Regions from separate parts of the Homo sapiens genome. Here all the other regions are linked to region 1. Evidence: fine-mapped expression QTL. A gene starts in region 1. Each other region holds a variant in brackets. All regions are shown on one strand. Distances are from middle to middle.

What was found. PIP is the estimated chance that this variant, and not a neighbour inherited with it, causes the effect.
Region 2: its variant is fine-mapped to the expression of LINC02384 in whole blood (TOPMed, PIP above 0.99). The same link has a PIP of 0.9 or more in blood mononuclear cells.
Region 3: its variant is fine-mapped to the expression of LINC02384 in whole blood (INTERVAL, PIP above 0.99).

What each region holds. Positions count from the first base shown.
Region 1 is chr12:68,446,072-68,457,010 of GRCh38, forward strand. LINC02384 (long intergenic non-protein coding RNA 2384) reads right to left here and starts at 5,413. Exons shown (of 4, transcript NR_120458.1): 1 at 5,296-5,413. RefSeq lists a silencer at 1,198-1,492 and enhancers at 5,272-5,601, 5,662-5,801.
Region 2 is chr12:68,430,093-68,440,975 of GRCh38, forward strand. LINC02384 (long intergenic non-protein coding RNA 2384) reads right to left here. Exons shown (of 4, transcript NR_120458.1): 3 at 3,192-3,279; 4 at 1,750-2,039. Among named protein-coding and RNA genes, the nearest start is that of LINC02384, 16 kb to the right of the region's middle. The variant A/G (reference allele first, on the strand shown) is at 4,901.
Region 3 is chr12:68,418,629-68,429,567 of GRCh38, forward strand. No RefSeq gene overlaps it. Among named protein-coding and RNA genes, the nearest start is that of LINC02384, 27 kb to the right of the region's middle. The variant T/C (reference allele first, on the strand shown) is at 4,892.

The DNA of each region.
Region 1 (10,939 bases):
GCTAAAAAATGATGATCTCAGAGAAGTAAAAAGTGGAACAGAGGTTACCAGAGGCTGGGAAGAATAGTCAGAACAGGGGGATAGAGAAAGATTTGTTAAAGAATACAAAATTACAGGTAGATAGGAAGAATAAATTCTAGTGTTCTGTGACACTGTAGGATGACTATAGTTAACAATATTATGTTTTTTCAAACAGCAAGAAGAGAGGATATTGACTGTTTCCAACACAAAGAAATAATAAATGTTTGAGATGATGGATGTGCTAATTACCCTGATCTGATCACTCAACATTGTATGTATCAAAACGTCACTATGTACCTTATAAATATGTGCAATTATGTGTCAATTTAAAAATAAAATTTTGTTAAGAGATGATTCTAAGATTTGGGGGTCTAAGACTCCAGGATTTTAGGACTGGTGAGTGCTCAGGTGCTGAGATCCTCACACATGAGTCCTTGCTGCTAGGAGAAGGTTGTCAGAAGCCTCCCTTGGCTGGGAGTAGGTTATCCTCTTCCTGCCCACCTCCCCCAGTGCTGTGTGAATGTAGCTCTTTGTGGCTTAGAGAATGTAAATTTTCATTTTGCATTTCCAGTGTCACATGCTTACCTTATCAGCATGTTCCAGTTTTCAGAATAAATATTTGGAGATGAAAAATAAAGATCATAATGCTTAATATGCCAAATTGACTGAGCCCCGTCTATGTGCCTAGCACTAAGCTAGTTACTTTGCACATGTCACGTTTTTTACCTATTACATGTAGTAATATTACTCCCATGTTACAAGTATAGAAATAGGCTATAGTAGAACTTGACTCCCAACCCAAATCAGTTTGGCTTTACAATTTACAATTTGGCTTAACCTCTATACTTCACTGCTTTCCCAAAGACAGCTACAGGGAAACCTGAAAATAATGAAAGAGAAAAAAAAAAAAAAAAAAAAAAAGCAAAAACTGGCCAGGCCCAGTGGCCCTTGTCTGTAATTCCAGCTATGCGGGAGGAGTGCTTGAGCCCAGGACTTAAAGGCTACACGCAGTGAGCTAGGATTGCACCACTGCACTCCTGCCCAGTAAGACCCTGTCTAAAAAAAAAAAAAAAAAAAAAAAAAAAATACTGACCCTAGGTTCACACTGTTCAACCTCATTCAGATTTGTGACTGGTTTTGTCATGCACCTTCTAGCACCATTTCAGTGTTTCCTCTCTCTAGTCCATAGAATTGATGGTATTTACTGCTCTAGTTTTCAAGGATGGCGTTTACTTCAGTAAGTAAATCAATTACTTCATTAAGAAAATCCTTAGAGCATCAGGGGGCTCAGCAGTAAGAAAGGGTTAACAGCCTCAGGAAGGGCTAAGCTCCCACACCGCAGGTGGTGTCAGAAGAACAGGAATAATGAGGCTGGGGAATGCCCACCCTCCGGAAGCTTTTCTGTACATCTAAATAGAGCAGAAAGTAAACGTTGACAAGAGGAAACTGTCAGGTAAATTAATTTGAAAAGTGCAGGTTTTGTTTTCTTTTCCTTTCAATGGGTGAGAATTCAAAGCATAAGGCAGGAGAACGAGTTAAAAATACTATGACTAGTATGACAGTAGCCAACTGATGCTTGCACAATAGAAAGGGCATCATGGGTTACACAAGAGGATTGTAAAAAATGTGCAAAAAAATAAGAGGACAGGGGCAGGAATGGCTGATCAAACACACTAACACCATGGGATCTTCAAAGGTTCAAAATATAACCACATTGTGACATTATAAAATAACTATATAGGATTCCAAAACATGAAGGTTTTTAAATAAAAGTATTTGTCCCTTAGGGTAAAGTCAGACATCCTTATCTTGGCTTGCATAGCCCTCTACAGTTTATCTCCCAAGCCTCATCCCTTCTACTGCCATGAACGACAACTTTGCAGAACCTCCTGAATTACTTTCATTTGTTGTCAGGCCCTCACTCTTTCTTCCAGGCCCTTACTTCTCTTCTCTGACACCTAAGTTCAGGCAGGGTCTCCTAGTTACACCTTCTGACAACTCTATGCTAATGTATTATCCTATAAATATTAAATAACATCTGTTTCCTGCTAGAATCTACTCTCCAAGGGCAGGGTCCATATCTGCTTTGTTTATTGCTATATTGTCAACTATGGTACAGTTATGAATAATTGAATGAATGCTGGTGGACATCTGGGTTCCAAACCGTCCAACTGAATGATATATAAGGCAACAATTGCTTCTTCAGTTTATGTATCAGTCAGGGTTTGACATGAAAAACAGAACCAGCAGAAAATTTTTGTTTGTTTGTTTTTGTTTTTTAATATATCCATTTATTTTTTACAAAGAATTATCTTACACAACTGTAGGAGCTGGCTAAGCAGGCCTGACATCCACAAGGCAGGTAATCAGAAAGGGAAAGCCATAAGCAGGCTAGACTACCACAAGGATGAGCTCAGTGATGAGGATGTCATGCAGAAGTCAGGGCTCTTTGTCATGGAGCTGTACACATACACTTAACCCAAGAGTCAGTGAAATTGGAAGTAGATACATCTGAAAAGTAAAGGAATTATAAACTAGCTGCTGCTTCACACCAACAAGGCAAATCAGCAGATCAGCAACAACATGAGTGTTTTTGTCCCAAAACGTAGAAAAGTTCTACAACTTTCCTTCTGCTCTACTACTTGGAATCTCCGACCTCAGGGAGAGTATAGATCAAGCTTATCCAAACCACTTTATTTTGTAGTTGTTGTTCTGTTTGTTTTTGTTTTAGGCTTTTAGCAACCTGAAGCCATAGTTTTTAGTTTCCGTCTCTAGTAATAAGCAGAAAAGAGGGATGAGGAAGGGGCTTTTCTGGCCCAATGAGAAACAGAAACTAAGAACCCATGACTGTACTCTCTCCCTTAGACACCCCTGGTCTAGACTCTCTTTTAAAAAGCTTTTAACTGATTAAGTCACATAGAATAATATCTCTTTTGACTAATTTAAAGTCAACTGATTAGGGACTTTACAGCTGCAAAATCCCTTCACAGCAGCACCTAGATTAGTGTTTCAATAATTAGGAGAAGGTACGTGCGTGCTACAAAATAGCTGCTGCCTCACTTCCATCTTCCAATTTTTGCAAGAGACTCTCCCTTGTAGACCACCCTAGTCAGAAACATACTAGAAAAGGAGCTCTGGGGGATGTGATTTATCCAAGCCAAAGCAGACACACCACGAAACCATCACAGGTCACATCATATAACTACCTCTTTAACCTTGAATGAAAGAAATTAATAAAAGAAACCAGTGATATTCAGAAGTAAGGGGAACCACTTTGTTATAGAAATAGTGCTGATTCTGCAGATGCAAAGGAAAAGAACAAATCTGGATAGGAGGGCAGAGCTAACAACCTTAGAGGAGCATGCTTCCAAGAAGTAGAGGAGGTATAGGGGAGCTCTCAGAGCAAACATGGAAGTGATAAGCATGTATTCCTATCAAAGATGGGGAAACTTCATTCCAAGACAAGCTGGAATGTTGGTGTTTACCAATAAACGCTTGTTAAATGAACTGATAAATCAATGAACCAATGAATAAATGCTGCCTTAAGCTTAAGCCCTGTGCTAAACTACAGAGGTATGGTGATATCTTAGTCTGTTCAGGCTACTATAACAAAATACCTTAAATGGGTAATTTATAAATAACAGAAATGTATTGCTTACAGTTCTGGAGAGTGGAAAGTCTAGGATCAAGGTAACAGCAGACTTGGTGTCTGGACTTGCTCTATGCTTCAAAACTGGTGCCTTCTTGTTATATTACCAAATGGCAGTAAGGGCAAGGCACCTCTTTTAAGAGGGCACTGTGATGGTTAATACTGAGTGTCAATTTGATTGGATTGAAGGATGCAAAGGATTAATCCTGGGTGTGTCTGTGAGGGTGTTGCCAAAGGAGATTAACATTTGAGTCAGTGGGCTGGGAAAGGTAGACCCACCCTTAATCTGGGTGGGCACCATCTAATCAGCTGCCAGTGTGGCCAGAATATAAAGCAGGCAGAAAAATGTGAAAAGGCTAGACTGACCTAGCCTCCCAGCCTAAATCTTTCTCCACTGCTGGATGTTTCCTGCCTTTGAACATTGAATTCCAAGTTCTTCAGCTTTGGCACTTGGACTGGCTTCCTCGTTCCTCAGCTTGCAGACAGCCTGGTATGGGACCTCATGATCGTATAAGTTAATACTACTTAACAAACTCATATATATATATATATATATATATATATATATATATATATGAATGTGTTTTATATATATATATATGAATGTGTTTTATATATATATATGAATGTGTTTTTTATATATATATATATATCCTATTACATATCCTTAACAAACTCATATATATATATATATATATATATATATATATATATGAGTTTGTTTTATATATATATATCCTATTAGTTCTGTCCCTCTAGAGAACCCTGACTAACACAGGCACTGATCCATGACTTAATCACTTCCCAAAAGGACTCACCTCTTCATACTATCACATTGGGTATTAGTTCCAACATATGAATTTGAGGGGGACACTAACATTTAGACAATAGCAGGTGGTAAAAAAGACACATTGTCCTCACCTTATGGAGGTTCCCTAAGGGTGGAAGGGATGGAAGATATACAAGGATTAAACAGTTCAAGCTACAGGACAAGGGTTGTCTTAAGAAAGATGGCTTGACTGAGAGAAAGCAAATTGGTGTTCTTCAGTCTTTTCATGGGTGCTAGATACTTCCTTGTTGCCATTTCTGCATTGCCAGAGCCACACACACACACACACAGAACACAATAGACTTTGTACAGCTTCCAGTGCAAAATTAGAAACCAGAGCTCAATATCTAGTTGACAGTGACAATATGGTTATTAGAAAAGCCTAAGTATGACATGTCTTGAATAATCAATGATTGAATCATGTGCCTTTAAGCTTAGCTTATGCCAAATGCCTCCAGGAAAGGTTATTTAAAAAAAAAAAAACTCAGAATGTGCTCACTGGCTTACAGTGATTGAGTTATGCTGTGGGCCATGGTAACTTCTCTGCAGTGCTCAAAATAGATGAAGGGCAGATCAGTCACCCTGGGGAATTTTATCTGCCTCATTTATGCATCCAGAGATGCTGCTTACATAAAGCCGAAATAAGCACAACCAAAAGGCACCAAGGAAGACGAATAAAAGGTGACGATTCAAATAGAAACCAAGAAAACAAGAAAGCAATCAACAGCAAAGATCAGGACCAGTCCCTGTTGTAAAGATCTGAGTAAGAATTCGGCCTGTGAAGATGGTACAGTACCTTTAACTTTCTGATATCTTCTAAGAGGCAGATTTAGAAACCTCTTCCTGGAGAAAGCCACAGCCTCCAGCTGTTCTTGTTCTACACATTCAGGCATGGACCCTTGCCACAGCCTCTCAAGGATTCACACTTCACACTGGCAGAGCACTCTCTCACTCCTCCTGGAGATACTGGCTCCTTCTTGACCTGCAGGCAGAGCACCAGAACCATGTAAAAATGTGACTCAGGCAACTCACAGATAAGCAAAGACCTCCAGGCAGAGCACCAGAAAGTCAATCAAGAACCATGCAAAAATGTGACTCAAGCAACTCAGAGTTAGGCAAAGAAACTGAAAGTTTCAAGAGTTCCCCTTGGCCAAGTTTACACCAAAACATTTTTATTATGCGAGTAGTTTTTAAAGGAAATCATTCATCATAAGTTTGCAGAAAAGGTCTGCTCCTTGTCTCCAGTTGCCTTGGAGATCGTCAAGGGGTGGCTGGAGGTGAATCTAAGAGACTGGAAATTCAGTTCATGGTCAAATCCATCAGTGTTTTAAAACATTCTAAAAAACCCAACAGCACCATCTGTAAGGACTGCATCATTTGCGAAATTTCTTGCTAAATCAGCTGGCCAAATGCAAAGCCAATTGCTTTGGCTTCCGTACAACACCATGCTGCAGCCAGGAAGTATTTTAAGTGGATAATGAGTAGTCTCTTCTCTCAATGAATACGTTCAAATAACATCGACTGCCTGTAATATGCAAAGTTCCTAGTCAAGGCTGCCTTAGGAATTCCTGCCCCTTAACTTAACGCTTTAATCTTTATCAGGGAAAATATCCCTCTTCTCTAGTGATGTTTAAGAAATCAATTCCCTGGCAATGGCCCAATACACTTTCCAGCTCATACACAGACATGTAAAACTGCACACACAGAGAAACACCCAAATGCACACCATTCGTACTAGTTCTGAGATATGCAAGGCTTACACCCTGCATCCAAGAATGGCTGCCAAGTTTTTCCTTTATTTAGTTATAATACCTCCTCTAAAATTATTTGGGGACCCAAAATGGCCTTTTTGTGTGAGGAAACACACATAAGAAATACCTCTCTGCCTTTTTCCCTTGAAAAATATAGTTATCTATGGAAAATCTGTGTGCTCTCTCTCTTTGTCTCTCAGATAAAAGTGGCAAAGCAGATGGAAGCTCCTTCTGTGAAGAAATCAAATTCTATACTCCTTATATCCAACCTCCATTACTCTATTTTTGTCATTTAAGTTATATAGTAGATATGTAATAAATGCTTCATTATTTCACTTATTAAGTTGGCTTCTCCCTCAAGGTACTTTAGAACTTTGGTACCCAACAGCAGCTCTGGGATCATGAGCTTATCAGAAATGCAGACACTCTGGTCCCATCCTAGCCCCCCCTCGAATCAGAATCTGCATTTTAACAAGATTTCTAGGAGATGTGTAAGCACATTAAGGTTTGAGAAGCACTGTTTTGGGACACACCTTGATTCTCTTTTTTTTTTTTTTTTTTTTAGTTTTGGTTTCTTTTTTTAGACTTAGGGAATACAAGTACAGTTTTGTTACATGGATATATTGTGTAGTGGTGAAGTCTGGGCTCTTTGTGTACCCATCACCCAAATACTGTACATTGCACCCAACAGGTAATTTCTCATCCCTCATCCCCACTCCCACCCCACCCTCTTATCTTTTGGAGTTTCCAATATCTATTATTCCACTCTGTATGTTCATTACACCTTGATTTTTACACTGTTACTGTTAGTCTAGTAAGTTCTCTCACTCCGCAAAGATCATGTCTTGCCATGGGGGACACTTTTCTAGAGGATAGTAATTATGAGCTGATGCTTTTGGGCACTAACCATGTGCCAGGAGTGGAGAGGGCACATAGTTAACATGAGAAAGATTTACTCAGTTAGTAAAAGGTGGAGGCAAGTTGGAACTCAATCTGGCATCTGGGTCCATGTTTTCCAGGTGCTGCTTCCCTTATTGGGCCCCTGCAGGGTGCAGAACGGTCCTACTTTCTGCAAGGTGTTTGACGTCCCTGTCTACCACACACTATAACTGCATGATACCTTCAGAATCCTGACAACCTAAGGACTGCCCCCACATTTCCAGACACCCATGTGAGTGGTGCTGATCACACTAAGAACCACAGTGTCTTGTGTTCATGCAGTAATTTTGAGAAATTAGTTTCCTGTGATTTGTTTCTTTCTTCCAGTGTTTAACCAAATAATAAAAATCCTTTAACGTTTTACATGTTATTTTTCACTTCAATAGAAGGCTATCACTATTGAGGGCCTGCTCTATGCAGACTAAAAGATAAGTAAGCTCCTTGCCTCTAGCCACTGACAATCTGGTTAGAGAAATAAGGCCTTAGTAGATGCAATAGCTAAGAAACAATTCAAGACACTATAAGATTAAGTCCAGAAATGACCAGAAAGACCTAGATTTATATTCTGGCTTTGTGCCACTTACTAGTGTGAGCCCAGTGACATTCTGTAAGCCTCTCTTTCCCTACCTGTAAAACGGGGGTATCATTAAACAATGCACATAAATTGCCACCACAGTATGTAAAGCATGAGATATACTTAATAAATGTTAGCCATATCCACCAATCACCACCCTCTCTGAATCAGGAAGAAATAGGACAAAAATGGGATACAGAGAGGATGTGCGTAAGAGAATAGACAGCATTCTGGGCAGGAGGCACAGCCAAGCAAAAGCGTGGTGTCAGGAATGTGCATGCCTGCGGCAGAAACTTACAGACTCTCAGACTGGATGAAGTGAAGGGTTCCAGTCAAGGAGTTATGAGAAGTGAACACATTAAAGTAAAGATAAGTTTACATTTGTTATGTGGACATGGAATCTCCTGGGGATTTTTGAATTTCTTCAGTATCACGACTTTCAAATACAGAAGAAATGCAAACCTACACAAAAGAAAATGAAGGAGTCTTCTAGCCATTCCCCCAGGGCTTCCCACACCAATGAGCGCGGATGCATCTATTACCAATCAATGTCTTTAAGAAGCCTGAAGAAATAAATGCATGGCACTGCTGTGGGACATATTTTTAATTCTTCTTTAAGTTCAAACCTGCCATCTAATTTATTTTCACTTTCAGTAAATGCCTTTTAAGCTTCTCAGACTTGAGCTAAGTCACATAGCTGATAAATAAATAGGATAAACCTACAGGAATATACTTGGTTCTTCAATCTTATGAAGTCTGAAAAATTGTATAAAGTCGACAACTTCAGCACTAATGGACCTAAAATGGCCAAGAAGCTATTGCTACTACTGTGTTACAATCGCTTTTGCTGGAGCATTCTTGTTTCTGCTGCTCATTAGGAAAAGTACTATCACACCCAGCAGAAAAGAATAATTGGCAAATCAACTAATTAAGGCAATATCGACACTCCTCTTGTCACCCAGTCACTTCTTTGTTGTAAATAAGCTTACTTGCTTACATTAAAGTCATTAGCTCTTCATATGTAAATAATAATGCACTTGAATTTAAACTGATTAGATATCTGAAAACAAACTTCAGTCCACTCTAATCTGGCCAGGATAGGGAAAACAAAGAGCATTATTGTCTTACTTAACCTGGTAAATTCAACACAACTGTATGAAGCTTCCGAATTCATTAATATCCAAATTCACCTTCCCTCCTGGACATTAGCCGGAATTCTATCTTTAGTTGTAAGACACACTATACTAAACAAATACTATAGTAATTAAAGAAACCACCCATTTCCTTCCCCCTAAGTTCCAGGAAGCCATGTTATTTCTGCAAACCAATTTCTATTTGCTGACTATTCTCCAGGGCTTTTAAAAGCAAATAAAATGTACCGGAAACTGTTTTCCAAATGACAACAAAGAATACATCTCCTACTCTCTCTTCTCCCCCAACAGGAAAAAACAAACAAACAAAAAAAGTGTGTGTTTGTGTGAATTTAAGGCATATACATTTAGGGTCTTGTTAAATCCTGAAAGATTGAAAGCCCCACAGTGTCCTGAAAGGAAATGTTTGAAGAAACTTCTCAAGTCTCTAAAGTTAGCTGGATCCTTTGCGACACTCACCTCTCATTTTGGCTCCTATAATTACCCCCTTTAACTTAATGCTGTTTATTTTTATATCTCTTCCCATCTTTCCTCATACCACTTTGTTTACAGCTGGTTAAAAAAAAAAGTTTATATTCACATATGTTCAATTCTGTCTTCATTTTCACTTCTCAGTTTCCCCTGCCCCATTTACCCTAGTGGGTTTGTTTGTTGGTTTTTTGTTTTAACTTCTTTATCATTGTCATTCTTCAGTCTAAACAGGATGAATTATTGATATAATCCCCAGCAAACAACTTCTTAACCACTTCCCACTCCTGAACCTTTAGTTTTTATTAAAGCACAAAGATTTATGTCAACCAAGAGTCCCATATAGTTCATTTCATCATGGGAGGAAGGGGGTTGGGAGAGGGGAGGAAATGAGACTTATTTTCATCCTGTTTGGATCCAAGACAAAGATCTTATGTCATCCAAAAGGGAGCCAAGACAAGACAGAGCCCCATGGTAATTGCCCACACTCTAACCTTTCTTGTCTCCCTTCTTGTCCCTCACAAATACCTCCCAGCAGGCCAGATTATTTTGTTAGAGAAGCTCCAAGCTGCCTACAACCCTGTAACAGGATAAAAGCTCTAGCAAGGTTTATGCAATGGACACTTATTTCCCTCACATCTCCCCTTCCTGCTCCTCAGATGATACCCTTCACTTCCTGTCCAGGTCAGGTTCCTGTACCGGAGGGCCACCCCAGGGTGCACTTCCTGCCTTCTAGCTGGTTTCATTGTCTGTGCCCTTAAAGCCCAGTCTTCCCCACGGGCTCCTGTGCTTTTCCACCCATCACATCATTCTGTTTACCTCTTGTTTGCTTTTTACTCCTTCCAAACTATCTCCTAGACCTGGAGTTCTCTCCCAGCTCTTTGCCTACATACCAATCTCAGCCTTTCTTAAAACCACGTTTCTCCCAGCAGTCACTCAGTAACTGCAGCCAATCAGGATTTTTGATATCCTGTCAACTTTGATTTGTTCTACCAACTTCATGGTGAAAATAACCACCACCTGCCGCATGATTCAGTCTTTTAAAGGCCTAGAACCACACACTTAACTAGGAATATTTGATATCTGAATTATGCTGTTTATCAAACCAAAGCCATGCTTTTGCTTTTGTGGGAGTTTTGTTTGTTTTACACTAAGCAAGACTATACCTACTGGCTACCTCCTCTGACCCCCTAGGTTAGATTACTTCCTACAGTTATTCTTTTACTCATAATCCACTTTACCTTTTGTTGTTGTATTTACGTATTTTGTTAGTGTACTGTGTGTAATAAATAGTTTGTCTAATTTTCAGTTTAGATAAGTTTTTCCCCCACCAACCTATAAATGTGTGAACTTATGAAGGGTTGGGGGAGCCAGGTGTTTCCTTGTCAAGCTGCCTCCCTTTCTGTCTCTTCCGCCTTCATTACTGTTCTGTTGCCAGCACAAACACAGGCCTGGCACATATGAGTTGATCAATAAATATATATTAAATGATGTGTATTCTCACACTATTTAAAAACTGGATAAATAATAAACACACGTGTACATACATACTGAATG
Region 2 (10,883 bases), 16 kb before region 1:
TAAAAAAAAAAAAAAAAATCCCTCAAGACTCAGCCTTGCAGTGCTAATTGATGTCATTTATAAGGAATCTAATAATGTTGAATAATTTATTTTAAAATGGCAGATGTTGAAAATATAGAGTCATACTAATCTGGGTCTAGCAGAGAATATATTCATGATTATCATATAATTTCATGTCAGGATTGAGTTTTTATGTTTCAAACAATCTTCAGGTATCTCATTTTAGTGCTTATATTAAAGTAAATTTAGGAAAAAGGTAATTTTGAACCAAACTGGTCATTCCTCAAATGTATGCCAACCGCTGTGTTAGGTGGTGGGAGACATGGTGGAGAACAGAGAAATGGTCCTTGCTCTCACTGGGTTCCATTCTAGGGGGAAACTCTGACAATAAATAAGTACACAAATATATAAAATAATTATAGATGGTGATTAACAAAAATTAACAGTAAATCTACTTTCAGTTTTCCCATCACTCTATCCATAGCTCTTTTTTGTTTTGTTTTGTTTTGTTTTGTTTTGTTTTGTTTTGTTGTGTTGTGTTTGAGATGAGGCCTCACTCTGTCGCACACACTGGAGTGCACTGGGGTGATCTCAGCTCACTGCAACCTCCGCCTCCCTGGTTCAAGTGATTCTCCTACCTCAGCTTCTCGAGTAGCTGGGATTACAGATGTGTGTACCACCATGCCCGGCTAATTTTTGTATTTTTAGTAGAGACAGGGTTTCGTCACATTAGCCAGGCTGGTCACAAACTCCTGACCTCAGGTGATCCCCCCCAACTCAGCCTCCCAAAGTGCTGGGATTACAGGCATGAGCCACTGTGCCCGGCCTATCCATAGCTCTTTGAACCATTCACAACAACCTATGAAACCTCAGTTTCATATATGAATACATATATCTTCATGAAGAAGGATGATTTAACGTTATATAATTTTCCCACCAGAAGAACTACACTATACTCACCTCAGGCTATTAAAAAATTTTCATTACTTTTTTTGTGTTTTACTGAATATTTTTAAATCCCTGGAAACAATTCACATCAAAATGCAAGGCCTCACAAATAAGTTCGGTTTCTCGCTATTGCTGAGGCCTCCTTTCCTTGCTAATAAGATTAACACCTGTTCTTTCTGGTTCCTAGAACAAAGAGAAGAATAAGGAAGAAAATCATGCTCCATCTTTGTAAGTATAACCAGTGCTAGCATAGAGGAGAAGAGGCATGAACGATAAAGCTACTTTAAGAATGCAAAATAGCCCAGGCTCAGTGGCTCACACCTGTAATCCCAGCACTTTGGGAGGCTGAAGTGGGTGGATCACTTAAGGCCAGGAGTTCAAAACCAGCCTGGGCAATATGGCAAGACCCCGTCTCTACTAAAAACACAAAAATTAGTCAGGCATGGTGGCACACACCTATAATCCCAGCTACTCAGGAGGCTGAGGCTCTAGAATCACTTGCACAGGGGAGATGTAAGTTGCAGTGAGCCAAGATTGTGCCACTGCACTTCAACCTGGTCGACAGAGTGAAACTCTGTCTCAAAAAAAAAAAAAGAATGCAAAATGGTCCAATCCTCCTCTCTAGCCAGGAGACTGTTAGTATAGCCACCCTCTCTTCCCCTTGCCTCCACACCTCACCTCCCTCTCTCCTTCTCTGCAGAGTAGCTGTGGGTTCCCTCCCAGCTTCCCTGTGAGCCTCCTCCTCCAGTAAACCTACTCTTCAAACCAGACTCAAACTCACTCATACCAATGTGTCAGTGATTGATGACAGTAAGGATATTACCATTTTAATAAGGATGAAGGTCTTTAAGAAGTGAAACTCTAAAACTAGGGTCTGCAGCTCCAGCGAGTGATAGTGGGTAGTATATATTTAGCAGCCCTAAAGAGATCCTGACCACAGATTCACAGTCTCCTGGTCTAAAAGCCAGCTAGCACATAGGGTGCCGGCTGCTTCAGATGCAACTTCATTGCCATACACCGTGGTCATGATTTACTATAAAGTAATGCTGTTTCCAATATATGATGGAGTGGCAGCCGGAGCATCTGCTCAACTGAAAAACAAAAAAACAACAACAAAATCGTTGTAGGTACACTCGGTCCATCTTGGGTTATCTTCTTTAATAGTTTTTTAATATATTGAAATGTCCTCCATCTATTGCATTATTCAAATTTCTGTGTGTGACATTTGTCTCTCCAGCTAGAGCAGGGACTTTCTTCTAAATCAGCACATAGAAAATATTGAGAGATAGTCTCTTGACTATTAAGTATAAATTAATCTTTCCGGGACTCATTTCAAATGTTTTGTTCTGAATGCTTTTCACGTTATTATTAATAACAACAGCAATTATGTTTATGGGACATTTGCCATGTACCAGGTGCTCTTCCTTAAATTATTCCTCATGCTCACAACAGCCTCCACATTAGTTATTATTACCTCTCTTTCTGTAGTTGAAGAAACTACCCAAGGTCACACAACTGCAGAGAAACTCTCCGGCGTTTGTCTAGCTCTCTTACAAAAGATGCAAAGGGAGTTTATCATGGTTTTTGCTCCTGAATAGGTATTGGAAAGGCAGGAAAAATACTGTATGTCTTGGCAATTCTACAAAACATATTACAGCACAAGGTTAAAAGATAGGCAACTTTTAAAGCCTCTGTGTTTTCTGTGGGATATTTATGAGTCTGGAGGTGAGTCAAGAATGAAACAGCCAGTTACAGAGTATAAGAACTATAATCAACTCTATGGGACTCAGCAGAAACAGCTTGAACCAAGGAAAGAGCATTCCACTGTAGACTCACCCTCTCCAGAGCAGGTAATAATAGAGCAACCAATTGGCTGCCAACCACAGGTTTAAAGCATGTGATGTCAGGACCAGCCCTCCTTGGCAAACTTAATCTTGTTCAAGACTAATTTCTAAGTGTTCCTGCTTTATTGGGTAGTATTATTAACCTGCTTTCATGGGAGGGTTTCAGAGGAGGCCTGGGGGCGGCTTAAGTATGGTTCTCCATTCTGTTCCTCCCTCCCACTCTCTCTCCAACACGCTGCCTGAACATCAGCCTGAGAATAGTCCTAACTACCATTTGTAGACTTCACCCCAATCTACAAAGTCTTTTCACATACCTTATTCATATAACCTTGTGAAATTGGTGCTACTAGTAGCCCCTTCCTAAACAGGAAGATAGCACAGAGAAAAGTTATGACTTACTCCAAATCACACTGCCCAGAGGGATGAGAGCCAGAAGTGGATCCAAGTTTTCTGGGTCTTCTGATTCGAAAAGAGACCAAATGAAAGCCTACCAAAGAAAAGGTAGCACGTGGTTATCCTTTGCTCCACCCCACCTCTCTGACATTAGGATTGCAATTAATAATAATTTGTTGGATTATAATGGCGTCCTACCATTCACTCTACCCATCTCTAACAAAAACACACCTCAGTCCCACGGAGCTTTCCCTTTAACATCTTCCAGTTTAATTTCACTCATGGGCATTTATAGAGAGCATTGCTATCCAGCAGTTTCTATTTTCCCCCCTGAGGTTTATAGACAATGCACAAGTATTACTAAATGTTAGATGCGTACATGAGAGAATAAATCTTCCTACGTGTCCTGTGTATGCCTGAGATTGATTTTCACTGCTTAGTTATGAACTTCCTAGAGGATAGCTTTTATAAAACACATACATACACTGAGAATTTAGTCTATACGTTATGGGCGATAGTAGCGATTCTTACTATCAAGACAGAAGCTCATTCTCGGTGAAAACAGGTTTCATTCACCTGAAGTGAAAAGGAAGAGAAGAATTTGAAATTACTGCAACCACTATCTAGATTGATGGTCAGTTACTCAAGAAACAATTATCCAGTTTGTGGATTTCCTCTGTTCCTTCTGCTTATTGTCTGCTTGGCATTTTTCACTATTCATTATCATCTCCTGCAGAGGGTATTAGAGAAAAAGAGGGGAGGTGAGATTCAAAATAAAATTCCAATAAATTATCATCAAGCACCTACTTTAAGCCAGATGCTGAGATAGGTACTGAGAATCCTAAATGAGTAACCACTGGCCCCTGTGCATAGGTTGCTGTCAGAAATGCTGCATTAAAGATATGTATAAAATACTACAAAACTCTGGTAAAAGAGTGATTCACCTGAAAAGGAGGGGAGGAGGTGAAGACAACAGGAAAAAAAGTGATACTTCCACTGGAACTTGAAGAAGTTGAAGTCCAGGAGGAAACAGATGAGTGGGGAAGAGAAGATAGGATGAGCGGGGGAACAGCAGGAGTGTGGGCAGCGGGGTTCAGAAGTGGGAAGGTTTCACTAAGGGCAGTGCAGGTGGTGACCACACATCCTGGTTTGCCTGAGTCAGTCCTAATTTATGGTCACTATGTCAGCATAATTAATATAGCACCTCCCTTTACTCTCAAAAGTATCCTAGTTTGGGTAATGAATTATATAGCCGTCTCTGTCAATCTGAGGCACATATGTCATCACTCTCCCCTCCTTTATCCATGGAAGATATTATTAAATTACCATGGTACATTCCTGGCTAGGCCTGGACTTGTCTTCAAAATCCTACTGAAAATATCACTTCAGGCAGTATCACAGATTGGAATTGGACCTACATATGTTTTCCAAGCTATGGGCCACAGAGGTTGCAAAATGGCAACTCACAGGCCATATCTGAACTGCATTTGTATTTTATTTGACCTACACAGGATTTTTTACAATTCTGAGTCAGCATTTACTACCATGGGATATAACTCAGAAACTCATATATCTAACTTTATTTGAGAAATGGGAAAATCCAGTAACATAAGACCTGTATTCCACGTAGTGGAACAATTGGCTGAAACTAAATAGCAAATATTACCCTTTTGTCCAATATCTACCTGTTGTTGTCAGCCTCCAAGCTGGTCCCC[A/G]CTGATCCTCATTTCCTGGTATCCACATTCTTGTATAGTCCCCTCTCATGCTGTATCAAGTTTGATATGTTTGGCCAATGGAATGTGACAGAAGTGATGTTATTCCATTTCCCAGGCTAGCTGTCATTCTGCCTTTCTTAGATTACTTGGCTCTGGAAGAAAACAGCTGACATGTTGTGAGGAGAGGCCCACATGGTGACAAACTGAAGCTTCCAGCAATCACCATGGGAGTGAGTCTTTTTGAAGCAGAACTTCCAGCTCCATTCTAGTAGTCAAATGATTGAAGCCCCCATCAACATCTTGACTGCAAACTCATGAAAGACCTGAGCCAGAACCATTCAGTTAAGCTGCTCCCAGATTCCTGACCCTCAGAAACCATATAAGAAATGAGCATTTATTGTTTTAAGCTGCTAAGTTTTGGGGGCAATTTGTTACGCAGCAGTAGCTAACTAATACACCAACAAAATTGATTTTCTTATGATCTACTTGCCTCTATCAATTATTTTATCTACCTGGCTCTCAAGACAGTTGAGGTTACATCCCAGCTCTACAGAAAGAAATATTGTTGATGGTTTTAAGCAAGAAAGTGAGAAGGTCAGATCTGGCTTTAGATGTATCACACTGGCATCTGTGAGAAGAAGAAGTAAGAGGGAGGCTCAAGATCAAGTTTATTTCCTGAAAAACTCATAAGTAGACCTTGCAATATAGCACAAGGGGGATGTGACATAGAACCATGTCTAAGAGACTAAGCTTAGACTCTAGGTCAGATAATATAAGTTCAAATCACCATATCACCACTGAAGGATCATATATATTTTAGTAAGTTACTTAGGCTTTTATTTCCTTAACTGAAACATGGGATTAGGAAGGCTTACAGCTGCAAGTAACTAAACACCCGTCTACTCATAGCTTAAATAAATAGTTTATTTTTCCCCTATAACTGAAGGTAGAGAGGTAGGCAGTTGCTGGGAATGATTCAACTGCTCAGCAATGCCACCAGGATTCCAGGTTCTCTCTAGCTTTCAACTCTGCCTTTCTTAGCAAGTTGGCTCATTGCCTTGTGTTTCTAAGGTGGCTGCTATAGCTCCAGCCATAACATTTCTGTCTTAGGTCATAGACTTAAAACAGAAAGAAGCAGGGGCACGTCAAGAGCTTTAATCTAGCTATGTGTGTCTCATTTTATCAGGAAAGAAAAAAGCTTCCCAGAAGCCCCCAGCAGACTTCTGCTTACATCCCATTTGCTAGAACTGGATCACCGGACCTCTTAGCAGTGATGGAGACTGGGAACATGAGTATTTAATTGAATACATTGATACTCCAAGCAAAATTGCACTCTGTGGGCAAGCAAGAAGAGAGGAGAATGAATATTAGATATTCAGTTGCCCCGAGTGATAAAACTGACTTCAGAATGTTGATACAAGGGTTAAAGTAAGCTGATACATGCTTTAGGCTAACAGTGTTTGGCATGGAATTAAGTGTTCAATAGATTTTAGCTGTTGAAATTGCAATAATTCAGGCACAGAATATTCATCCTGGACTAGGACATGGAAGAGTGAATAATTTTGAGACTAAAGGACTTGAAAAGAAAGACAGATAAAATTATCAGTGGGAAAATAACTTTGGTTTTAATTGTTTTTTATTACCTTTCTTTCTCCTTTTGTCTTATAAGCACAGAAGTGGTCTGTTTATCACATCATCTTTTTTCTTTCTAATTATTTTATAATTGTGTATCTTTTGTTAGAATTTAAGTACTTTATTATTTTAAAAATCTAACTAAAGGAAATATAAACTTTGAGTTCTTTAATCTACTCAGTTGAAAAACCTCCTACAGTAACTTTAACTCTACATTCCAATTAGTAGCCTGCACAATTATATAATCATGTAATGCACAGCACTGTGACCTACTCTTCAGAAGATATTTGTTTTAGACATAGCTCGCCTATGTGAAGAAGTAGAAATATTGCCTCTGGTCATGCTAAAATTAATTGCAATATTTAAGTCATGTGACATTTAATGTTTCTAGAACTAGCAGGTAGCATAGCTCCCAGAAACCCAATTGCACATTGCCGAACGTGTCTCAAGGCACTTTCAGGTGGATCGGATAATGGGTGGAACCACCACATACTTTTCAACCATGAACAATGATTCAGGGGCCAGGATTTAGAAACCATGGGCAGCTATGTAATTGCATAGTGTTAGAAACAAGAGAGGTGAGTGGTGTGGAATATAGGTTTAAAAGAAAAGGAAGGTTCTGAGTGTATACTCAAAATAATTGAAAGCAGGGTCTCAAGGAGATATTTGTATACCCGTGTTCATAGCAGCACTATTCACAACAGCGAAAAGGTGGAAGCAGCCCAAGTGTCAATTGACAAATGAATGGAAAAGCAAATGTGATATATATGTACAATGAAATATTACTCACCCTTAAAAAGGAAGGAGATTTTGACATGATACATGCTACAACATGGATGAAACTGGAGGACATTAAGCTAACTGAAATAAGCAAATCACAAAAAGATACTGTATGATTCCACTGATGTGAGGTACCTGGAATAGTCAAATTCATAGAGACAGAAAGTAGAATAGTGGTAGCCAAGAGCTGGACAGTTATCGTTAATGAGCACAGAGTTTCAGTTGGGAAAAATGAAAAATTTCTGGAGGGGGATGACAGCAATGGGTAACAGCAATGTAAATGTAATTAATGCCACAGAACTGCACACTTAAAAATGATTACAATGGTAAATGTTATGAGTATTTTACCACAATAAAAAAAAATTTTTAAGGAAAAAAAAAAGAAAAAGAACTTGAATGTAACATCCCCACTTCACAAACTTAGCACCCCCGTCTTCCACTACCACCACAACCACCACCCACAAAGTCCTCTAAAAGTCTGCTTATTAAGGGGAAAAGAAGGAATCAAAATTGGGAAAGAGCCTTCCAAACTCTTCCAAGATCTGAGCAGCTTCTTTTAGTCATTCTGTTCTCTTTTTTATTTTTCACAATAAATATGGAGTGCTTTTTGTTTTTTGTTTTTTAGACAGAGTCTTGCTGTGTTGCCCAGGCTGGACTGCAGTGGCACGATCTTGGCTCACTGCAGCCTCCACTTCCCAGGTGCAAGTGATTCTCCTGCCCTAGCCTCCCAAGTAGCTGGGATTACAGGCGTACCATCAGATCCAGCCAATTTTTGTATTTTTAGTAAATATGGGGTTTCACCATGTTTGTCAGGCTGGTCTCGAACTCCTGGCCTCAGGCAATCTGCCTGCCTTGGCCTCCCAAAATGCTGGGATTACAGACATGAGCCACTGCACCTGGCCAATAAATATGTATTATATTTGTAATCAGGGGGAGGACAAGGAAAGAATATTATGGCAAAGGAAGAAGTGGCATAAATTCGTCTTCATCTCTGGCCTGAGGTCAAGGCAATTCTTCCCTCAGCCTCACGAGGCTTGAGTTTTTGCTCAGAAGCATGAAATATCATTACCTTTACCTTTCATAGCCCCAGTTTAGGATAAACTCTGGGTCAGCAGTTACATGACTGACCTGAAATGATTTCACTCTGCGGCTGGCAGCGCCAGACTCAGGAGTGACAAACTGAAGTAAATGACTGTGTGAGCAGCTTCTGGTGAGACCAAATAGAAGAACTGCAGCAGATAACTTACTCTTTTTCATTGTTTCTGATTAGATCTTTTCACATTTTGCTTTTGTTTTTGTTTTTTTCTTGGAAAAGACAAGGGTGTCTCATGGAGGCTTTAGGGAAATGGCTGAATTTTAAGGAAATCGAATTGGCTCCCATGATTATCTCAAAGGAGCTGTGGTCGTAAAAGTTAATTAAATTAGATTCATTTGCATATTCAAGACCATTCCCTTCCTTCACTTTAAAGGCAGAGAAAGAAAATGTGTCCCAGCCTCCTCACTGGGATTATGACACACAACATGTCCAGATCACTCTGTTTGTATGCTGGAACTTAGTCGGACTAGCAGGCTATTTTTTAAATCCTTTTTCCTAGCTTGTATTCTCCACATTTTAAGGTAAGTGTCAATACAAACGTTAAATTAGTATGCATTGCAGTTCTTGCTTTGAAATATAGAATAAATCCTTTAGAGAAAGAGATTGCCGTGCTTAAAGACTGAGGTAATTTTCTAAACAAAAGGTGAATTCAGAACACTAAGTAGAAGATGAACTAGCAACATTTACAGCCACAAGACTGTGTAGAAGCATTTTGCATTTGTGTATGTATTGGCAACAACGGCATCTATAGCTTTATTTATTATGGGTCAGAGGAACGGAACGATTGGACCCTAAGAGGATGTCTAGTCTACCCTGCTGCCTGGAGTAGGCCTAAAATAACCGGCTAAAATGGAACTCTGGCCTGTTTTCTGAAGCCGCTAGGGAAGGTGTTTCCACAACCTTCCTCTGTTATGTGACCCATTTTTAACAATCTTTAATATCATACCAGAAAACATTGCCTTATATCCAACCTATATCCCCTCTGCTATTGATTTACTGTTTACTCTCACATGCATACAATGCAAATGTGAGCAGTCGCACTCAGCCCCTCCACCCTGCTCATTTGCATATTTCTTTGGAGTATCAACTAATGCCTACAGATTAAAGGGAGTGTCTACCCTACTTCCTTCAGCCACACATGCCTGTTAATACAAGTAAGGCTATATCATTATCTTCATTCTTCCATAAGAAGACAGGGTTAATTTATTTTTTTTCTTTAATGAACACAAATGTGCCAGACAGACCCTATGCTAGGTTCTTGGGAAACAGTGGCGGACAGGGCAGACCAAGATCCTGCCCTCACGTGTGGAACTCAGACATAATACAAATAATTACCAGTATGATGAAGACTACAAAGAAGTATAGGTTACTAAGAAATTACACAATAGGCTGAGCTAACATAGGCTGGGAGGATAGGAAAGCTTTCTAAACAAAGCTATGTTTCACCTGAAACCTGAAGAATAGGAAATATCAAAGTAGAGAAGGGAATTCAAGGTAGAAGGAACAGCATATGAATGGCCCCTATCATGAGAGTGTGGCCTGTTTGAGAATTGACAATGGAGTTCAGACAGCAGGACAAAAGTAGCTGTGATCAAGCTATGGAATCTTCAGACATTACTCACTGTCCACACTTGCTTGGCTGTGACTGAAACCTAATGCCTTGGTCCTGCTTTGTACAATTTTAGAACTCTGAGCAACTGGATGCTTAGCGACAAGGATTAGGCACCTGGAGTAAGAATGGACAAAAAGAGCCCTCATTTCAGTGCTCAGAAGGCCTGGAATGTTCCAGTGGCCTCAGTGAGTCAGCATGGTGTTGTGCAGCATTGGTGAGCTCGTTCCCAGAGTATTCGGGTGCTACACAGTCTTCAGCAAGTCACACTTGCAGGGTCTCCGACCTCACTTCTGTAAAGTGAGGAGGTTAGATATGGGCTTTTCTAACTCACCTTCTGGAATCAGTTAGCAACAATAGTCCCCATACAGTTCTTAAGTGGGTCACATTATTACTGAGCTAACCTACATTTGCTAGTGGGCGGAGGGGATTATTCAGACAGCCAGCAGGCCTGTCTCCAATTTGCTTTTTTGTTTTTGGGTTTTTTTTTTTTTATTTTTTTTGGTTTGGTCTTTTAGTATTTTTTTAATCATGGTAAAATATAGATGACATAAAACTTACCATTTTAACCATTTTTAAGTGTACAATTCAGTGGCATTAATTATACAATTTCAATATTGTAAGCCATTACCACTATCTATTTCTGAAAATGTTTCATTCCAATGCACTTTTTATTTTTTTTTTTGAGACAAAGTCTCACTCTGTCTCCCAGGCTGGAGTGCAGTGGCACGATCTCAGCTCACTGCAACCTCCACCTCCCAGATTCAAGCAATTCTCCTGCCTCAACCTCCCAAGTAGCTGAGATTACAGGTGTGTTCCACCATACCTGGTTAATTTTTGTATTTTTAGTAGAGACAGGGATTCAC
Region 3 (10,939 bases), 27 kb before region 1:
ATTCTGGCTAGATATTGGAAACAAAGAACAGGCAATTCTTCCCCTGGAGTAATTATAGTATAGTCTACTATCTAGAGTGGTTAGAGTGGTTATGTGTACTAAATGAGTTAAAATTTATAAAGCTCATGCCTCTAATCCCAGCACTTTGCAAGGCTGAGGAAGGTGGATCACCTGAGGTCAGGAGTTCGAGACCAGCCTGACCAACATGGAGAAACCCCGTCTCTACTAAAAATATAAAATTAGCCGGGCGTGGTGGCACATGCCTGTAATCCCAGCTACTCAGGAGGCTAAGGCAGGAGAATTGCTTGAACTGGGGAGGCGAAGATGAGTGATCAGTGAGCTGAGATCACACCACTGCACTTTTGTATTTTTTGTATTTTTAGTAGAGAGGGAGTTTCACCACGTTGCTCAGGCTGGTCTTGAACTCCTGACCTTGTGATCCACCCGCCTCAGCCTCCCAAAGTGCTGGGATTACAGGCGTGAGCCACCACACCTGGCCAGCATTTTTTTTAAATGAAAGAGAATGGAACAGACCTGAACACAATAGTGCCAGCAGTGAAGATAAATATTGTTTATTGAAAATTTGTGTGTTGTTTTATATAGAGGTACGTATAAGTGGCAGTTGTGGAGGTTAAAATTTTTTGAAAGCTACTTTACTCGACCAAAGTTGAAGCCTTGGCTTTATTTTCTGCATTGAGCTCCCTCTGTAAAACAGAGAAAGAAAATGTCTGTGTGTGTGTATGTACATTCATGTGCATATAACTATGTGCATGTATACATGTAATTATCCTAAAAGAATTTCAGAAAAAGCAGCCAGGTGCAGTGGCTTGCACCTGTAATCCTAGCACTTTGGGAGGCCGAGGCTGATGGGTTGCTTGAGGCCAGGAGTTCAAGACCAGCCTGGCCAACACAGCAAGACCCCATTTCTAAAAAAAAAAAAAAAATTTTTTTAATTAGCTGGGCATGGTGGCATGCATCCATAGTCCCAGCTACTGGAGAGGCTGAGACAGGAGGGTTGCTTGTGCCCAGGAGTTTGAAGGTGTGGTGAGCTTTGATCACGCCATCACATTCCAGCCTAGGCAACAGAGTGAGACCCTGCCTCTAAAAATCATAATAATAATAGATAAAAATAAAACAAGAACTTGAGAAAAAGGAACTTTTTAAGAGGAGAGAAGAAATCCCCCATTCCCCAAATAGATGGCCTAGATCTGAAGATGTTTATTCCAAGGGTAAACTTTTCATTACTAATAAATAGTGTTTACTGAGATCTTATTGCATGCCAGGCACTGAGCTAAACACTCCACATTTAATCCTCCCAACAACCCTATGAGGCGAAAATAAACACCAACAAAACAAAGAAACCCCAACAAACATTACAGATTTAAAATCTACAGGTAACAGATAACCCTCCCTCCCTGACTCCCCTCTCTGTCTCCCCCAGCCCCACTCTACGCACCCCCTCCCATCCTTTCTCTCTCTCCCTGTTTCATATTTCTGGAAAAGAAAAGAAGAATGGTCAAAAAGAAGGGAAAAGGGAAAAGAAAAGCCACGGAAATAAAACAGATGGGACAAGAGGAGAGGAGGAAGGAGGGAGGTGATCAAAAGAGAAAGGAGGAGCATATTGAGCATAGTTGGTGCCGTACCATATACTGCCAATAAATTCTCATTTTGAGTACAAAACCTTGCATGGGACTGTTGAAGAAGGCTCAGTCTTTAGGGTGGAGTTGAGAAAGACAGAGCGGTGTGGTGTGCCAAAACAAACTCCTACTTTCTCATTCTGCTCAAGGTCAGCCTTGACACACTTTCCTCCAATGTGGCAGGAACACCAGCTACAGAAAAACTGCTTCCGTGAAAACCACTATTTAGGTACTGATATTAGCATCTTGTGCAGGGTAGCCTAGAGTTATGCATTTTCTCCTCTCAGGAGCCCTCTATATCCATTTGATTTCTGCGATGTACGCCAGCAGGCTTTGGCTCAGTGTTAATGACTTTGTTCTCTTTGAATTCCTGTGAGATTTTATTCCCTTTGGTGCCCAGGCGTTGTGTGCCACAGTGATTTCTGCCCAGTAAGACTTCTGCTGTGATAAAAAAGAAACTGCAGGGAAGGCCTGCTGCTTGTCCTCTGCCGGTTGCTGCTACCCGACACAATTACTCATACTCCCATTCAGAGAATGCGAGAGAGTGATTCTGTTTCCATGGCCTCAGTCCTGAGACTTTACTCTCTAATAAACTGAGAACACTAAGCCATGTGCTAAGCGCACATCGTCACTACCTGGAAAAGGCACCTTCTGGCTAGAGCCAAGTGGACTAATCATGTCTGGATAGACAAAAATGTTGTGCTCAGCAACCTAGCTCTCTCTCTTTCCCAATTATGAGACAGACCACCAGAGCTGGTAAACCACGTTACTTGTAGACACCAGCATTGTTGTTTATGCTATCATTTCAATTATGTTTTGAACTAGGGTTCTGTTGGCTTGCTTGCTTCCCCCGCCCCATCTCCCTCCCTCTATTGAAGGAAGAAGCCAAGGTAGGAAAATATCTGCTTGAATTGTTCATGAAATGTAAAATTTCTACTTTACCATGGAAAACCAGATTTTAGACACTATTACTCATGCTGGCTCAGAAACTCAATTTTTAACCTTTCTGACCCCACAGAAATCACAGAAGTATCCCCTTTGCTTCTATATCTTCTACCTGGGGCCCAGATTTGATCTGTGTCAATGCCACTCTGAATGCAGGACCTCTTATTGCCTTGGGCCAAGCAAAGGTACAGGAAAAAACTTCAGGCTGATCACTCTCAGCAAACTAACACAGGAACAGAAAACCAAACACGGCATGTTCTTGCTCATAAGTGGGAGTTGAACAGTGAGAACACCTGGACACAGCGAGGGGAACATCACACACCAGGGCCTGTCAGGAGGTGGTGGGCAAGGGAAGTGAAGGCATTAGGACAAATACCTAATGCATGAGGGGCTTAAAACCTAGATGATGGGTTAATAGGTGCAGCAAACCACCATGGCACATATATACCTATGTAACAAACCTGCACACTCTGCACATGTATCCCAGAACTTAAAGTAAAAAATAAATAAATAAATAAATTGTCCAGAAACAAATAACATTCCTTAAAATTAAAAAAATTTAAAAAAAAACTTTTTTAAACTTCAGGCTGGGACACCAAAACCCGATTCCTGATCCAGCCTTTAAAAGCACCCCAGGCCGGAAGTGGTGGCTCACACCTGTAATCCCAGCACTTTGGGAGGCTGAGGTGGGTGGATTACTTGAGGCCAGGAGTTCTAGACCAGCGTGGTCAACATAGCAAAACCCTCTCTCTACTAAAAATACAAAAATTAGCCAGGCATGGTAGCGCACACCTGTAGTCCCAGCTACTTGGGAGGCTGAGGCAGGAGAATTGCTTGAACCCAGGAAGTGGAGGTTGCAGTGAGTCGAGATCGTGCCACTGCACTCCAGCCGAGGTGACTGAGCAAGGACTCTGTCTCAAAAAAAAAAAAAGAAAGCATCCCAAAGAGTCTCAAGGTTTATATAGGAGCCGCAGAAAAACAGTTCTCAAGTCAAAATGAATTCAAAGCTGCTTTAATTAAATGCCTTTTAGCACTGTGTTGAAACAGATGAAGATTTTGTTACAAAATCAAAAAACAAGTGATTCTCTAGTCTTGTTTTTGTTACCAGCTTCCCACTGACCTACTTTTAAATTGCGTGAAAAATGTGGCCTTCCCCGCTCCCCCTCCTTCCTGTCCCCTCTCCTCCTGACCTCTGTACCTCTTCTCCCTTCTGGTTCTGTCTTCCATAGGCTCTTTCTTCTCCTCCCACTTATCTCAGGTAGGGTCTCAAAGCTGGTCTTCATGTTCCCTTCCCCCTTCTCCCTGATGATAAGAACCCTAACCTTGTGTCTTCCCTGTGTATCTCTAGAAGGGAGATACCCAAATCTCTAGACATGACTTTCATGGATGTTCCAATCACTTGAATCCAAAGGGACCGCTTATCCCCCTTTGCTGGGACAACCTCCATGTATGCCTGTTGTTGTACCTTATTATTAATAGTGCAGCCGGGCACGGTGGCTCATGCCTGTAATCCCAGTACTTTGGGAGGCCGAGGCAGGTGGATCACCTGAAGTCAGGAGTTCGAGACCAGCCTGACCAACATGGTGAAACCCCATCTCTACTAAAAATACAAAAAATAGCCAGGTGTGATTGCGCACACCTGTGATCCCATCTACTTGAGAGGCTGAGGCAAGAAAATCGCTTGAACCTGGGAGGTGGAAGTTGCAGTGAGCCGAGATTGTGCCACTGCACTCCAGCCTGGGTGACAAAGCAAGACCTTGTCTCAAAAAAAAAAAAAAAAAAAATAGTGCGCACTTTCACTCTCACAGGGGTCTTGGACAATATATTATTTAGTCATTCTCCTTAAAAGCAGGATTTTCTTCCTGAATATTTACTTGATCCAACATTTCCTCCCTCAGCTACTTCTTTTTCTGAAGCTCTGGCCTTCTTCCCAGCATTTGCATTTCTGTCAGTGCTTCTGACGCTCTTCCATCTTCCAGAACCTGGAAGCCCCGGCATCCTGTTGACGCCTCCCTCCCCATCTCATCTTAGCCATGCAGAATGGCGACACCAAGGTCAAAGGAACTGGACATAACTCCTGACTGCATCACTTACCAGCTCTGTGCCCCTGTTCACCTCTGGTCTCTGCCTCAGTGCTGTCATTTGTAAAACAATGAGAACAATACATTCCTTGAACAGCGTCACTGGAAGCATAAATAAGGCAGCTTCTGAAGGGCCACTGGGCATTGTGCCTAACAAAACAAATCTGACTTCTTATTTATGTATTTATTCAACACATTTATTGAGCACCTACTGTATGCCAGGCACTG[T/C]TCTAGTTCCTGGGGATACATCCGTAAGCAAGACAGTCAAACACATCTGTCCTCATAGAACTCACATCCCAGTGCAGAAATCTGACAATAAACAAATAAAGAGCTCCTAGGTCAAGTAGTGATAAGGGCTACAAAGAGAAAACCAGACAGGGTAAGGGGAACAGGGAGTGCCCAGGTGGAGAAGGGCTGCTACTTTAAAACGGTGGCTAAGGGTCACTAATAAGATGACATTCAAGCAGACACTTAAAGGAGAAAAGAGGTAAAGGAATTATCTAGGCAGATATTTATTTATTTATTTATTTATTTATTTGAGACAGAGTCTCGCTCTGACACCCAGGCTGGAGTGCAGTGGCACGGTCTCTGCCCATTGAAACCTCTGCCTCCTGGGTTCAAACAATTTTCGTGCCTCAGCCTCCCGAGTAGCTGGAGCTACAGGCATGCACCACCACACCTGATTAATTTTTGTATCCTTAATAGAGACAGGGTTTCGCCATGTTTGCCAGGCTGGTCTCGAATTCCTGGCCTCAAGTGATCCACCCACTTGGGCCTCCCAAAGTGCTGCGATTACAGGCGTGAGCCGCCACACTTAGCCTAGGCAGATATTTAAGAAGAACAGGCTTGGGAGGCCGAGGCGGGCGGATCATGAGGTCAGGAGATCGAGACCATCCTGGCTAACACGGTGAAACCCCGTCTCTACTAAAAATACAAAAAATTAGCTGGGCGTGGTGGCAGGTGCCTGTAGTCCCAGCTACTCGGGAGGCTGAGGCAGGAGAATGGCGTGAACCCAGGAGGCGGAGCTTGCAGTGAGCCGAGATCACACCACTGCACTCCAGCCTGGAGACAGCGAGACTCCGTATAAAAAAAGAAGAAGAAGAACAGGCATAGGCAAGTTCCCTGAGGAAGGCCTGATGTGTTGGAGGAAGTCAGGGATGGCAGCCTCGTGGAGTGGGGTGGATGCCTAGTAGGGAATGAAGCCAGTGGAAGCGGGATTCCCACACAGGCCTCGTAGATCCGAGCGAGGCGTTCAGCTTGTCCTCGGAGTGCAATAGGAAAGCTGCCAGACTGCAAAGCGGTACCTGTGAAGAGATTAGACCTCCGGGCAAGGCCAGAGGCAGAAGGGTTAGGGGAACATTGCAGTAATCCACACAAGAAGTGACAGTCGCCTGGACCAGGGTGGCAGCAGTAGAGGAGGTGAGAAGTGGACACCTTCCCTTTGAAGTCTCTCCAGTTTCCCACTGCATTTCCCTCTCACAGCCACAGTCCTGTCCCTGGCCTTCATCACCTTACCCCTGAATTATTGCACTAGCACCCCCACTCCCTCACTGGTGCTCACGGGACTGCCCGCTGCCCCCGCTCTCCTGTTCTCACCTTCATCACATCATTCCCCTGCTCAGGAAATATGACTGTGCCTTGCCCATCGTCCCCAAGTCCAAATTCCTCTCCCTGGCTCTCAAAGCCTTCCACTGAGTTCTACACACTCAATGTTCTTCTGACCATAAACCAGTTCCTACCAGTAGTCCAGCACCAATTCAGATAGTAACTGGCTTACCTAATGACCAAGAGATCTGCTATTCTATACCCAATTCAAAATTAACTGGATAGTTCTTTTAATTGGGTCATAGAACCAGAGTTCCATTACAAAAACAATTAACGGTTAACATTGATTAAATGCTTACTAAGTTCCAGACACTAATCTAAGAACTTTACCAACAGCATCCCCTCCAATTGTACAACATCCCTATGAAGTGGGTACTATTATTATCCCCAACTTTACAGATGAGGAAACTAAGGCACAGAAAAGTAAATTGCCCAACATCACAAAGGCAGTTGCGGGGGCGGGGGGGGAAGGAGGAGCTGAGATTTGAATCCAGAAAGTCTACCTCCATCGTCAACACCCTTAACCATGGCACTCCATTGCCTCCCGTACTTGGACACGGTGTATCAGGTTTCTTCATGTGAATCATTAAATTCTAAGTTGTGTTTACAGCAAAACTCTCATTACTGCCCCCCAAGCTTTTGCTAAGCATTTTGTCTTCTTCCTGTCTCTACCATCTCTACCATGTCTTCTACCTATCTCTACCATGCCAAATCCCACCCAGCTCTCAAGGTGTAATTCAACTTCCTGATTTTCCACAAAACTTCTCTAAATACATGAGACCTCACTGAACCTCCATTCTTCCAGCTATTTGAAATCCACTTCAAATCACTATGTTTGATTTTTTTTTCCATGTGTCTTCCCAACTATACTGGATACTGCTTATGTAGAGCAACCATAAATTATGTTTCTTTTTATATCTCTACAGTATGTAAAACAATCCTGAGCCATTCCGTTCAACAGACATTTTAAAATAAACCCTACAGTGAGCTAGATCCTGTGTGGCTCCCGAAAACACAGTGAAGACAGTACTCAAAAATACTTGTGTGCCAGATGTGGTGGCTCACATTCGTAAATCCAGCACTTTGGGAGGCTGAGGCGGGAGAATCCCTTGAGGTCAAGAGTTCAAGATCAGCCTGGGCAACATAGAGAGACACCCCCGCCATCTCTACAAAAAAAATTTTGAAAAATTAGCTGGGTATAGTGGCACAAGCCTGTAGTCCCAGCTACTGGAGAGGCTGAAGTGGGAGGATCACTTGAGCCCAGAAGGTTGAGGCAGCAGTGAGCTATGATCACGTCACTGCATTCCAGCCTGAGCTATGATCATGCCACTGCATTCCAGCCTGTATGACAGAACAAGACCCTATCTCTAAAAAAAAGAAAAGAAAAGAAAAGAAAAAATACTTGTAGACCAAATGAGAAGATCCAGGGAAATGCCTGTTGAAACATAATTATCTATTTTAATTAACCTTTTTCATATAAATGCCATCAGTGACACTTCAGATACAAACATATGATTTTCATGTCATTTTAATATAAATTCATTGAGCATCTACTTTGTGCTTGTTCCAAAAAGGAATGAGACAAAGCCCTGCCGTCAGAGAATCCTCAGTCTGTGTTACCATATGTCTTAGGGCATGGTTGGAGATCAAGAATAGAAAAGCCACTAAAATCTACTTAGGTAAAAGAGAACAGAAGGTAAGAGAGAACTGACAGGCCTGCTGTGGGTGATTGGAACAGAAAATGACCAAAGATGTTACTTTCTTCATTGCCATGTTATCTCTTCCTCTGCTTCCCTCATTTTACATTTCTCTCTTTCCCCCACCTTTTCTCCCTCCCCATCCAACCCATTCCCAGATTGCCTTCCTTTGCTCTCCTATTACACCATCCACAGTGGCTTACACTGGCTGGTGCCCTCAGCTTCCAACACGTGCTAGTGACCGTCCAGGTCCAGCATTACTGTCTGTTAACTTGACTGTCTCCATTCTAATCCCAAGTGTCCAGCAGGAGACTCCAAGGGGCCTACCGTGGACAGGTTTCCAACTCTAGCCGAAACAGCTATGGTGGGGAGTGGGGAAAGGATGCCCAAGGTCATGCTGGATGGTATGCAAGGGACTGCTCTTTCTGGGGCTGGACTCAAAGGTATGGGATGATGGCTTCTGTAAAATATAATGTGATAGGGCCGAGCATGGTAGCTCACGCCTGTAATCCCAGCACTTTGGGAGGCCGAGGTGGGTGGATTGCTTGAGGTCAGGAGTTCAAGACCAGCCTGACCAACATGGTGAAACCCCATCTTTATTAAAAATACAAAAATTAGCCCAGCATGGTGGCAGGCGCCTGTAATCCCAGCTACTCGGGAGGCTAAGGCAGGAGAATGGCTTGAAGCCAGGAGGTGGAGGTTGCAGTGAGCGGAGATCACACCATTGCACTCCAGCCTGGGCGAAAGAGCGAGACTCCGTCTCAAAAAAATAATAATTTTATATATATATGTATAATGTGATAAATGGTCTAATAGTTGCTCTACAATACATACACCTCGGATTCACATTTTGCAGACTTCACGAATTCATAGAATTTTACAAATTGTAAAGGATTCCAGGAATCATTTGACACAATCCCTACACTTGAGCTCATTGTAAACCAAAGCCTGAGAGCAAATAAGGGTGGATTCCGTACTCTCTGACTTCTAGTCTACTCCAACATTTACCAAACCAGAGCAGTTTAAGACCACCTTTGACATGTAGGTGACCAAAGATAGTCCACACTGCATCATAGCATGTGGATTTGTTTGTCTTTTTTAGTATAATTTCTGTACCTACTAAGAACTTTCACATATATCATCCTATCTAGTCCTCCCAGCAATCATGACAAGAATTGTTAAGCCTATTTTGCAGATGATAAACTGAGACCTAAAGAAGTCAACAGACTTGCCTACACTTTACAGTTCATATCAGGCAAAGCCAAGATTTAAACCCATACGATTTCACTTCAGACCTCCCTCTTTCTGCTATGCCATGCTGCCTTCACTCTCTGGGAATCAATGAAATGTCAATTTGTATTGTTTGTAATGTTTTTCTATATGTTATGATGTTTTATTTATTTATTTATTTATTTGAGACAGAGTATTGCTCTGTCACCCAGGCTGGGGTGCAGTGGCACAATCTAGGCTCACTGCAACCTCTGCCTCCTGGGTTCAAGCGATTCTCCTGCCTCAGCCTCCCAGGTAACTAGGATTACAGGCACTCGGCACCACACCCAGCTAATTTTTGTATTTTTAGTAGAGATGGGGTTTTACCGTGCTGACCAGGCTGGTCTGGAACTCCTGACCTCATGGGATCCGCCCGCCTTCGCCTCCCAAAAAGCTGGGATTACAGGTATGAGCCACCGTGCCTGGCCTGTTATGATGTTTTAACATCTTAAAAATCTAGCTCAGGAGAGACTGCCCCTTTTGGGTTAGCCAGTTCTTAGAGATAGCAGAGGGCTCATGGAGAATGCCTTTGTTATGAAAACTAACCAGTCCAGAGCCATACCTCCTCTACCAGGAGGCAATATTCCTCTGCCTTAATCATCCCAGGCTGCATACCAGGAAACTAAAGACTACTCCTATAGCCCAAAGCTTACAGGAATTATTCAAACTAGCCAATTCCAGTTTCCTCTGCCCTGTCTTCCCCATGAAAACCCCAGTAAAGATGCCTCCTGTTTCCAGACCCTCTGGGGATAATAAACTTTGTTTTCCTGAGCCTCTGATGTGTGGCCTCTTGTGGCCACACCCCACTGACCATCACATAAGAGAACACAGAACACAATAACAAAAAAAAAAGGATTGGAAAAGCAGACTGAGAAGTTCAGAGGATCCTTTAGTAATGTTCAAGGAATTAGCATGTACGATAGAGGAGTGGTCAAACCATAATGCGCTCAGACCGTAAATAAGATATTCTCAATCCCAGCAAGCATGGCTTCTGGCACTTCTTTTTGCAGCATTCTTGTCTCCAATGCAGTAAAAGGATCGTGACAGGAACATATTTCAATGCACAGATCAATCCGATTGGTTTGGAGGGAAAAGCTGGTTCTCATTTAAGATGGTTTAGTAGCAGTGATTCATTCTATCAAAGGCATCACTGCATCTTTGATGCAGACACTATCATCCTAAGCCTCTTTGCAATCAATCCCAAGATGTATAATTTGTTTAGCCTAGTGAAATTCTTCACAATTCTCTAAACAACTTCAAATGTTTCTGATAACTTGACCCTGCATTCCTTGGATCAAAAAGCAGCAAGGCACAAATGTCTGAATCCCAGGCTGGTTCCAAAGAGTAGTACTTCAAAGAACTCTGCACACGGCAATTCCATAGTGTACTTTTACTACTTATTGACTTTAGTTTCTTTGCCATGGTAGAGATTTATTATTCTTTAACTTAAAGCTGGACTCAAATCAATTGTATGCTCTGGTTTCAAGAAGTCCTGATAAGGTCTCCCAACAACACAAGGAGGGATAGGGTGACTAACCTCCATTTATCCAGGCCTGGAAGGATACCAGGAATGTGGGACTTTCAGCTTTAAAACCAGGAAAGTACTTAGCAAACCAGGACAAGCTGGTCACCCTAGTCTAGAGATTTAAGAAAAAGCAAGTCTTTTGTCTTATTAAACTTTAAGAGGTGTCTTAGAATTAAATGC